Linked DNA regions of Homo sapiens: region 1 is linked to region 2. The links come from fine-mapping of genetic effects on gene expression. A gene starts in region 2. The other region holds a variant in brackets. All regions are shown on one strand. Distances are between the middles of the regions. Region 1 holds the start of LOC105372255 (a long non-coding RNA gene). Region 2 holds the start of MLLT1 (MLLT1 super elongation complex subunit).

Region 1 (5,370 bases), 79 kb after region 2:
TGCACTCCAGCCTGGGTGACAGAGCGTGACTCCATCTCAAAAAAAAAAAAGAGAGACAAGGTCTTGCTCTGTCACCCAAGGCTGGAGTGCAATGGTGCGTTCATGGCTCATGGCAGCCTCGACCTCCTTGGCTTAAGCAATCCTCCTGCCTCAGGCTTCTGAGTAGTTGGGACTACACATGCACCACCACGCCCGGCTAATTTTCATATTTTTTAGAGATGGCGGTCTCACTATGTTGTCCAGGCTGGTATAAGCCACCATGCCCAGCCTGGTTTCACTTTTATTAGATAAAATGTTGGGGCGAACGCCCTGGTAGCTCAAGCTTTGCCTATGCACTGTGATTATCTGTGCCGACATATGGATCGACTTGACAATTTAAGATGGTGTAACTCTCTTGGTTCCATTCACTCAGGTGAGTCCATCGGATCCAGGTGGAGCCCCTCCCCACCACTCCAGACTCTTGGATACAACTGCCCACCCCTCATTTCCTCGTCTAACACGCATCTCAAACCCAAACAGCCCAGCTAGGGGAGGGATGTTACCCACAGCCCTCATCCCTAAATCTCCTCCCTCCACTCCAACCTACCATAATCTCAGACAACAGCAGCTCCATCCTTCAAGTGGCACTGACCAGAAAACTTTGGTCATTCTCAGCGGGTTTTGCTGAGACACCAACAAATTCTGTGGGCTCTGCTTTCAGAATCCGAACGCTTCTCACCCTCTCTCCTGCTACATCTTGGTCCAAACTATCATCATCTCAATCTCAGCTGGTCTCTTTCCCCTCAGTCTGTCCTCCCCACAGTAGCCAGAGAGCGCCGTGAGCACCTGAGTCAGGGCATATCCCTCCTCTGCCTCCATGGCTCCCACTCCCCCTCCCCTCGGGTAAAAGCCAAGTCCCCCACAAGGCCCACCAGGCACTTCTCAACCTTCCCCACCCCCTCCCTCCCTCACTCTGCTCCAGCCACAGGGGCCTCCTCCTCACTGCTCCTTCAACACAGCAGGCACTGTCCTGCCTCAGGGCCTTTGCACAAACTCCCCTTGACCTGGAACACCATCCCATAGATCTTTTCTCTTCATTGAAGTCTTTGTTGAAATATCACTTTCTCTCAGTGAGGCTCTCCTTAGCCACCTTTTTCTTTCTTTCTTTCTTTTTTTTTTGAGACAGAGTCTCACTCTGTTGCCCAGGCTGGAGTGCAGTGGCGTGATCTCGGCTCACTGCAACCTCTGGCTCCCGGGTTCAAGTGATTCTTCTGCCTCAGCCTCCCAAGTAGCTGGGATTACAGGCATGCACTACCATACCCAGCTAATTTTTGTATTTTTAGTAGAGACGGGGTTTCACCATATTGGTGAGGCTGGTCTCGAACTCCTGACCTCAAGTGATCTGCCCTCCTCTGCCTCCCAAAGTGCTGGGATTACAGGTGTGAGGCACTGCACCTGGCTAGCCGCCATACTTTTAAATTCTGCCCCCACCTCAACAGTTTACTCCTTTACGTGCTTTGGATTCCTCTGAATCACTGAACACTGTCTTACCTATTGCATAATTTACTTGTTTATTACATTGACAGAACAAGTCACAGGAGGTCTCTTATCCCCTTTCCTGATCTGAAAAATGGGTGTTCATTAATTCAACAAACATCAGAGGGTTGGCGCTGGTACAACAACAAGGCAATCTGGCCTCTCGCCCTCAAGGAAATGACCAAATAAACAAATGACCTTGGTAACTTGTAGCCATGATGATGAAAACTGGGAAGAATATTTTTTTGTGACAGAGTCTTGCTCTGTCGCCCAGGCTGGAGTGCAGTGGCATGATCTCGGCTCACTACAACCTCCACCTCCCAGTAGCTGGGATTACAGGTGTGCCACCATGCCTGGCTAATTTTTTTTGTATGTTTAATAGAGACAGGGTTTCACCATGTTGCCCAGGTTGGTCTCAAACTCCTGACCTCAAGTGATCCACCCATCTCAACCTCCCAAAGTGCTGGGATTACAGGCGTGAGCCACCGTGCCTGGCCCTGGGCAGACAACTTTTAAAGGGGCTGTCACAGAGAGGGGGAAGAGGGCAGGTTCGGGGAACCAGGGTAGCAAGGAAAGACCTCGCTGAGGAAATGCCACTGGAGAAGAGACACAGTAAAAACCATAATAATGGCCAGGCACAGTGGCTCATGCCTGTAATCTCAGCACTTTGGGAGGCCGAGGTGGGTGAATCACGAGGTCAGGAGTTTGAGACCAGCCTGGCCAACATGGTGAAACCCCCGTCTTTACTAAAAATACAAAAAATTAGCTGGATGTGGTGGCAGGCACCTGTAACCCCAGCTACTCAGGAGACTGAGGCAGGAGAATTGCTTGAACCCGGGAGGCGGAGGTTGCAGTGAGCCAAGATCGCACCACTGCACTCCAGCCCTGGCGACAGTGAGAGACTGTCTCAAAAACAAAAACAAAAACAAAAAAGAGGCCAGGCGCGGTGGCTTATGCCTGTAATCCCAGCACTTTGGGAGGCCGAGGCCGGTGGATCACGAGGTCAGGAGATGGAGACCATCTTGGCTAACACGGTGAAACCCCGTCTCTACTAAAAATACAAAAAATTAGCCAGGTGTGGTGGCGGGCGCCTGTAGTCCCAGCTACTGGGGAGGCTGAGGCAGGAGAATGGCGTGAACCCGGGAGGCGGAGCTTGCAGTGAGCCAAGATTGGGCCACTGCACTCCAGCCTGAGTGACAGAGCAAGACTCCGTCTCAAACAAACAAAACCATAAAAATAATAAATAGTGAATGCTGGTGCAATGCTTTGTGTGTGCCAGAGCTATTCGATGTGTGTAAACTCACTGAATCCATGCAGCAAAGCTGTGAGCTAGCTGCTGTTATATTTTATATATTTACATAAAAATGCTGATATAAAAGAAAATATTTTATATTAAATTTAACATAAAAGGGCCGGGCACGGTGGCTCACACCTGTAATCCCAGCACTTTGGGAGGCCAAGGAGGGCGGATCACAAGGTCAGGAGATCGAGACCATCCTGGCTGACACGGTGAACCCTGTCTCTACCAAAAATACAAAAAATTAGCCGGGCGTGGTGGTGGGCGCCTGTAGTCCCAGCTACTCAGGAGGCTGAGGCAGGAGAATGGCGTGAACCCGGGAGGCAGAGCTTGCAGTGAGCTGAGATCGCGCCACTGCACTCCAGCCTGGGCAACAGAGCAAGACTCCGTCTCAAAAATAAATAAATAAATAAATAAAAGTGTAGCACGCATAAAATTTATCCATA[A/C]ACAGACGTTTTATATACTGTACATTTATAAAAACTATACTTTAAATGTATATATAATAATACATATTTTTATATGTTTACTTTTTTATTTTTTTAACTTTATTTTTACCGGAGGATCCAGTTTACTATGGGTATTGGAATGACTTTTCTTTTTTTTTTTTTTTTTGAGACAGTCTTGCTCTGCTGTTGCCCAGGCTGGAGTGCAGTGGCACCATCTGGGCTCACTGCCTCTGCCTCCCGGGTTGGAGTGATTCTCCTGCCTCCAGCCTCCCAAGTAGCTGGGATTACAGGCATGCACCACCATGCCTGGCTAATTTTTGTATTTTTCGTAAAGACAGGGTTTCACCATGTTGGCCAGGCTGGTCTCGAACTCCTGACCTCAAGTGATCTGCCTGCCTCGGACACCCAAAGTGCTAGGATTAAGGCGTGAGCCACCGCGCCTGGCCTTTATATATATATATATATTTATATGTAAAGTTTTCATATAGGGAAACAGAGGCACAAAGGCACAAAGTTTTCGTGCAAGAAAACGTAGCTAATGGCTGCTCTGGGATCTGAACCAGGGCCCCTAAGTCTGCAGCTTTTCATTTCTGGCTCTCAGGCAGCCTCAGGGAATCCGTTAAAACAAACATGCGAGTCAGACAAGTGGCAGTCACAGGAGAGTAACACTGCGCAGGCGCAGAAGGGATGTAGTGGCGCGCAGGCGTAGGAGGCGGGGGGAGATGGGGGAGGAAGGCCCTGCAGCGGCGCGCAGGCGCAGAAGCAAGTGGGCCGGAGCGGCGCGCAGGCTTACCGGGGGAAGAAAGGCGCGCAGGCGCAGGACGCGGGGAGGGGCGGGGGAAGAAAGGCCCTGGAGCGCTGCGCTGGCGCAGGAGGTGAAATAAGTGGCGCGCAGGCGCAAGAGGGTGGGTGCAGAAGAGGCGCGCAGGCGCAGGAGGGGCGGGAGGGGCGCGCAGGCGCGGACCGCCTGGCGGTACTTTGAAGAAAGACTTCTCGACGCCGAGACACTGCTGGTGGTACTCGATGTAGGTGAGCAGGTGGCAGCTGTTGGAGCCGGGCGCGATGTTGTTGGCGTACTTGATGGCCGTGCTCGCGACCATGTCGTGCACAGTGAGGAGTGTCTTGTTGCTAACTTAGTCCTTGCTGAGCCGCAGTCGCGCCTCCCCGTCGCGCTCCGTGGTCCGAGTAGCTCAGCCTGCGGACAGGCGGGTCAGCGGCGGCCGGAGACCCCCAGATGGACCTAGAGAGAGGCGAGCAGGTGGCGTGTCAGGGGCAAAACCAGGGAGAGATGGGAGCACAGGCAGGAGCGTGGCACTGAGAGATGGCAGACGGAGGAGGCGTGGTGTATGAAGTGGATTGCCAAGGGAGAAAGATGACCAGCGAGGCACAGAAGGGGATGCAGGGACAGGTGGACAGTGAGACGCACTGACCCAGAGAGGAGTTCAGCAGGAAACCCACCAGCAAGCAGACAGGTCAGCTGTAGGCCCACTGTCCCTGCCGGGCGCCGTCTCCTCCCCAGGGACCAGACACTTCTTTTTTTTTTTTTTTTTCTTTTTTGAGATGGAGTTTCACTCTTGTTTCTCAGGCTGGAGTGCAATGGCATGATCTCAGCTCACTGCGAACTCTGCCTCCTGGGTTTAAGCGATTCTTCTGCCTCAGCCTCCCAAGTACCTGGGATTACAGGCATGCGCCCCCACACCCAGCTAATTTTGTATTTTTAGTAGAGACGGGGTTTCAACATGTTGGTCAGGCTGGTCTCGAACTCCTGACCTCAGGTGATCCACCCACCTCGGCCTCCCAAAGTGCTGGGATTACAGGCATGAGCCACCACGCCCGGCGGGACCAGACACTTCTGACAACTGCTAACCACCTGCACCCCCAAACCCCCATACACCCAGCCGGGCACCCTATGGTGGTGCTCTCCATGCCCGCATCCCATCAGGCAACTTCTGAAGAGATAGATTGAACCCTAAAGGATCCCAACACTGGCTGAACGGCCTTGGCCAGCCCTGAAGCGCTAGATCCCCACTCTCAAACTGGCTTCTCTGGGAACACCACTACCCTCACCCAGGAGCCAAGGAGCCCCAAACTCTGTTTTTCTTTCCTGGGTGT
Region 2 (5,335 bases):
TTATACATGAGAACATGTGGTGTTGGATTTTCTGTTCCTGCGTTAGTTTGCTGAGGATGACGGCTTCTAACTCCATCCATGTCCCTGCAAAGGACATGATCTGATTCCTTTTTATGGCTGCATAGTATTCCATGGTGTATATATACCATATTTTCTTTATCCAGTCTATAACTGATGGGCATTTAGGTTGATTTCACGTCTTTGCTATTGTCAATAATGCTGCCGTGAACATACGCGTGCATGTGTCTTTATAATAAAATTATTTATATTCCTCTGGGTATATACCCAGTAATGGGATTGCTGGGTTGAACATTATTCATGCCTCTAGGTCTTTAAGGAATCGTCACACTGTCTTCCACAGTGGTCGAACTAATTTATACTCCCATCAACAGTGTAAAAGTGCTCCTTTTTCTCTGCAACCTTGACAACATCTGTTGTTTTTTGACTTTTTAATAATCGCCATTCCGACTGGTGTCAGATGGTATCTCATTGTGGTTTTGATTTGCATTTCTCTAATGATCAGTGATGTTGAGCGTTTTTCATATGCTTATTGGCCGCATGTATGTCTTCTTTTGAGAAGTGTCTGTTCATGTCCTTTGCCCACTTTTTAATGGGGTGGTTTGTTTCTTTCTTGTAAATGACAACCCGATTTTTAATGACAAGAAGGAATTAAAATAACTGCACAAGGATCCCCAAATCACAGGCAGAAGTCCTAATGTCCAAGAGACAAGTGGCTTATAAAGTCCTGAAAAAATGGGGTTATGCCTATTTCCCACATAAACACAGTTTACAGGTCATTGTAAAATTTTGTGATCCTCAATAAATCAAAACAGTTTTTTGAGAGATGGGTATTATTTAAAATTTTGTGGATAACATGAGATTCTCTCTTTAAAAATTATATCTTTGTTCAGGGCGCAGTGGCTCATGCCTATAGTCCTAGCACTTTGGGAGGCCATGGCAGGAGGATTGCCTGAGGCCAGGAGTTGGAGACCAGCTTGGGCAACATAGTGAGATCGCTCTTTCTATAAATAAATAAATAACCAAACTAGCCGGGCGTGGTGACATGAGCCTGCAGTCAGTCCTAGTTGCTTGAGAGGCTGAGGTGGGAGAATTGTTTGAACCCAGGAGGTCTAGGTTACAGTGCGCCACGATTGTGCCACTGCACTCCAGCAGAGACCTCATCTCAAAAAAAAAATCTTTATTGACAAATAATAACTGTATATATGTATGGGGTACACCTTGATGCTTTGGTACATGTATACATTATGGAATAAACAAATCAGGCTAATTGACATATCCATCACCACATATACTTATCAATTATTTATGGTGAGAACATTCAAAATCCACTTTTAGCATTTTTTTTCTTTTTTTTCTCTTTTTTGAGACAGAGTCTTGCTCTGTCACTCAGGCTGGAGTGCAGTGGCATGATCTCATCTCACTGCAACCTCTGCCTCCCTGGTTCAGGCGATTCTCCTGCCTCAGCCTCCTGAGTAGCTAGAATTACAGGCACACACCACCACGCCCGGCTAATTTTTGTATTTTTTTAGTAGAGATGGGATTTCACCATGTTGGCCAGGCTGGTCTTGAACTTCTGACCTCAGGTGATCCGCCCCCCTCAGCCTCCCAAAGTGTTGGGATTACAGGCGTGAGCCACCGCATCTGGCCGCTTTTAGCAATTTTAAAATATAAAATTACATTATTATGTAGTCACCTTGCTGTGTGATGGATCGCCAGAACTTATTCTTCGTGTCTAACTGAAAACATGTGACTCTCTTGGGTCATTTGAATGTAGCACGATTTCAAATTTGTATCATTCAAATTAGCATGAAGAATCACACAGTACTGTTCTTCAACCTATTTCACAGATGCACAAACTGAGACTCAGGGAAAGGTGAAGAAGGGGCTGACCAGGTTTGCCAAGGATTATGCAAGATTAGAAAATTAATCTCCACTTTGGGAGGTTGAGGCAGGCGGATCACTTGAGGTCAGGAGTTCGAGACCAGCCTGGCCAACATGGCAAAACCCCGTCTCTACTAAAAATACAAAAATTAGCTGGGCATAATGGCGAGCTCCTGTAATCCCAGCTACTCGGGAGGCTGAGGCAGTAGAATCTCTTGAACCTGGGAGGTGGAGGTTGCAGTGAGCTGAGATCGTGCTAGTACACTCTAGCCTAGGCCACAGAGCGAGACGTGTCTCATAAAAAAAAAAAAGAAAAGAAAATTAATCTCCAGTTCCAGAGCCCAGGGCTCGTTCCATTACATAGCAGCATCATGAGGTCAGGAAACAAAAGTGTCCCTACCGGGGGGGCTGGGGGATCCCTCCACAGGGCTCGAACCCGTAACCTCAGTTCCAGCCCCCGGGACGCTCCCGCCCTGGAGGCTCCAGCCACGAGGCAGCGCCCCCTGCGGGCCGCAGCGCGCAGGCGCCGCGCGCCCGTCCCGCCCCCGCCCCCCTCCACGTGCGGCGCACACCTCGCGCTCCCCTCCGCCAGGCTCGCCTCGCGCCTCCCTCCCTCCCTCCTCCCGCCCCTCCGGTCCCGGCCTCCCATTGGCTGCGGGCTTCGTCCCTCCGGCCGCAGCCCGGCAGGCCCCCGCCAGGCAGGAAGTCCCGCGCCACAAGCGGCCGTCCGCGCCGTCGATTGGCCCAGGTGGCTGTCAGTCGATGCGGCGGGCCCTAGTCGGCGGCGGGGGCCCGTGATCGGTGCGCGACCCGGGCTGGCGGTGGTTTCCGGTTCCGCGGGGCTGGCGGGCGAGCGGGCGGCCGGGATCGGCGGCGGCGGCGGCGGCGGCGGCGCTTGACAGACAATGAGGGCGGCGGGGCGGCGTTGAGCGGCGGCGGCGGCGGCGGCGGCGGCGAGCGACGCGGGGCCCGGGGGCGGGGCGGGGCGCCAGCCATGGACAATCAGGTGAGGAGCGGCCGCGCCGCCCCTGCGCAGCCCGCCCGGCCCCCTCCCGCCCGCCGGCCCGCCCGGCCCTCCCCGGTCCCGGCCTCCCCGCTCCGCGCCCGCCCGCCCGCTTTGTGCGCGCCCGCCGCTCCTCGGGCCTTTATGTGGGGCGGGGGCGCCCCTCCCCCATCCGCGACCCCGGCCAGGGCGCCTCGGACACCCTTCGGGACCCGGGCCGGGCCCGGAGCCCCTTGGGACGCCCCTGGTGACCCCCCAGCCTGGCTCGGAGACCCCCGGGAGACCCCTCGGAACGCCAGTCCGACCTGCATCCACCTGGGACGCCCCTGGGGACCCCAGCCCGGCTTAGGGACCTCAAGACAGCTCTCGGGACTTCAGCCTGGCCCAGAGCTCCTTCCAGGCACTTCCTGGGATCTGGGCCCTGTTCAGACCCCTCCCGGGGCCCCTCGGATCTGCCCAGTAGACCTTTCCGTCTCTAGGTCCAGGGCCAGTCACTGTCTCCTTTCCTGTCTGGACCCTTGTCCCCGAGTCGCCTCAAACTCCCAGAGTCCCCAACCTGCTGTCTGTCTTCCCTTCAACCTCAGCTCAGATATGAGGCGTCCCCGGCCCCCTGGGACCCTGCTCTGCGGCGTCTCTCTTCCTTGAACCCCGGCCCAGCCTAAGCTTTATCTCCACCCATCCCCTACCTGGACCTGAGCCTTCTCTCCCGTCTGATCCTGCCCCGGCTGCAGCCAGGGCATCCCTTTCTCTCCCAACCCCAGCCCTGGCCTGAGCTCCTCTGACTCCCTAGGACCCTGGCCTTCGGTCTTCTGCTGCAGGGACTCAGGCCTGTTTGGAGTGTCCCCTCTCTTTGTACTTGCTTTTTCAGACTTCTTTCTTTGACCCACCCTGCCGCCTCAGCCCCCTTCTAGTTTCAGGCCCTGGTCACTCTCCCTCGGACCCGGCGGGGCTGTCTCTTTCACCTTCAGACCCTCTGCTCTGAGACCAGGACCAGGAGCAGTTTCTTCTCTGACCTGGATTCCCCAGACCTTTGAGTCACTGATGGCCTGCTGTTCCCCTCAGCTTGGGCCCTCTCCGCCCCTGGGATCCTGATTTAGGCTTCCCCACACTTGACCCCAGTCCAGATCTCCCTCCCAGGCTGGTTGGTCACGTCACAGTCCTGCAGTCTCCTGTACAACCTTTGCCTTCAGGATCTCCCACTTCATCTAACGCCCATCAGCCTGATGAGTCCTGATGTCTCTTTCAGCCACTACCCTCTCCCTCCTTCCACCTCATTTTCTGTTTTTTTCCCCCAGGATCTTAGAGCCTCAGTTGAAACCCAGGGTGGGTGGGTGGGTTCCCCAACCTCCCTAAACGCTCTGGACGGCCCCTCCCCATTGGTCTGTGTTGGTTCTCATAAACACGAGGCCTTCCTGCACCCTGGCACCCCCTTTACCCAACTCTGCGCTGCCTCTTCTCCAATACCCAAGCCCCTACCCCTCTTCCTCAAGCCCAGAAGCATTGCTGGCCCCCAACATGGGATCATTTCTTCCTCCTCCTCTGCTGCCCTGGCTTTCAGGGGCACCAGGCCAGGAAAGGTGTTGTGGGGCTGTGGGGGTGGCAGCCAAAATCTCCGCCGTTAGAGAGGGCAGGTTGGGGCGTCCCTGGCTGCTGGCGCCACTGAAGTGGCACTGTCTGTGTGGTTTCATGGGTGGGGGGCAAGAATCCTCCCTCCTGCCCATCTCGGCGCCTGTGGCACAGGGTCATGGAGACAGGTGTCTCATGCTTCTGGCACCCAGTTCCCATGGCTTCCCATCTGGTTTGGGTGTTGCTGCCTTCTTCTTAAGAGGTAAGGAAGAGTTTGCAGCAGTTGATTGGTGGATTTCCACGGCGTGGTGTGAGTTGATTTCCGTTGAAGGGACAGAGCTTGTTGCTTCCAATCTGTATTGAGTTAAAAACCCAAATGAAATATACCTTTAGTGTCCACTTTCAATGAAGCCCACCTCCAGGCAAGTCCCGCTGGGCACACAGAGGCATAGGGTATGGCCCCTTTCCTCCTTCCTTAGTCCCTGGGGGAGATGTCCTAGGCCGAAGCGTGTCTGTTCCCCTTGTGATGTGTGGAACCCTGGAGGTCTGGGTGGCTGTCACTTATGTAAGTGGGATGGTGGAAATGGGTGGCATTCCTGGTCTGCGACAGAGGGAGATAAAGGTCTCACTCAGGTGGACAGGTGTGGGAGAGAGCTGGCTTTGCACTGCCCGGTACCACAGTCACCAGCATCTGTGGCTGATTTACATTTAAACTAACTCGAATGACAACTTCAGTTCCTCCATCGCACCAGCCACATTTTAAGCACTCAGTAACCACCATTACTGAGCTACTGAGCTACTGACCACCCTGTCGGGCAATGCAGATGCATTTCCATCATCGCAGAAAGTTCCGTCGATGGTGAT

Evidence for each region.
Region 1: its variant is fine-mapped to the expression of MLLT1 in whole blood (TOPMed, PIP above 0.99).

Annotation. Positions count from the first base shown.
Region 1 is chr19:6,198,393-6,203,762 of GRCh38, reverse strand. LOC105372255 (a long non-coding RNA gene) reads left to right here and starts at 4,239. Exons shown (of 4, transcript NR_187772.1): 1 at 4,239-4,287. RefSeq lists a silencer at 3,993-4,322 and enhancers at 3,836-4,438, 4,439-5,042. The variant A/C (reference allele first, on the strand shown) is at 3,259.
Region 2 is chr19:6,277,346-6,282,680 of GRCh38, reverse strand. It overlaps MLLT1 (MLLT1 super elongation complex subunit), which reads left to right and starts at 2,706. Exons shown (of 12, transcript NM_005934.4): 1 at 2,706-2,908. The coding sequence starts at 2,897. RefSeq lists a silencer at 2,309-2,738 and an enhancer at 3,539-3,618.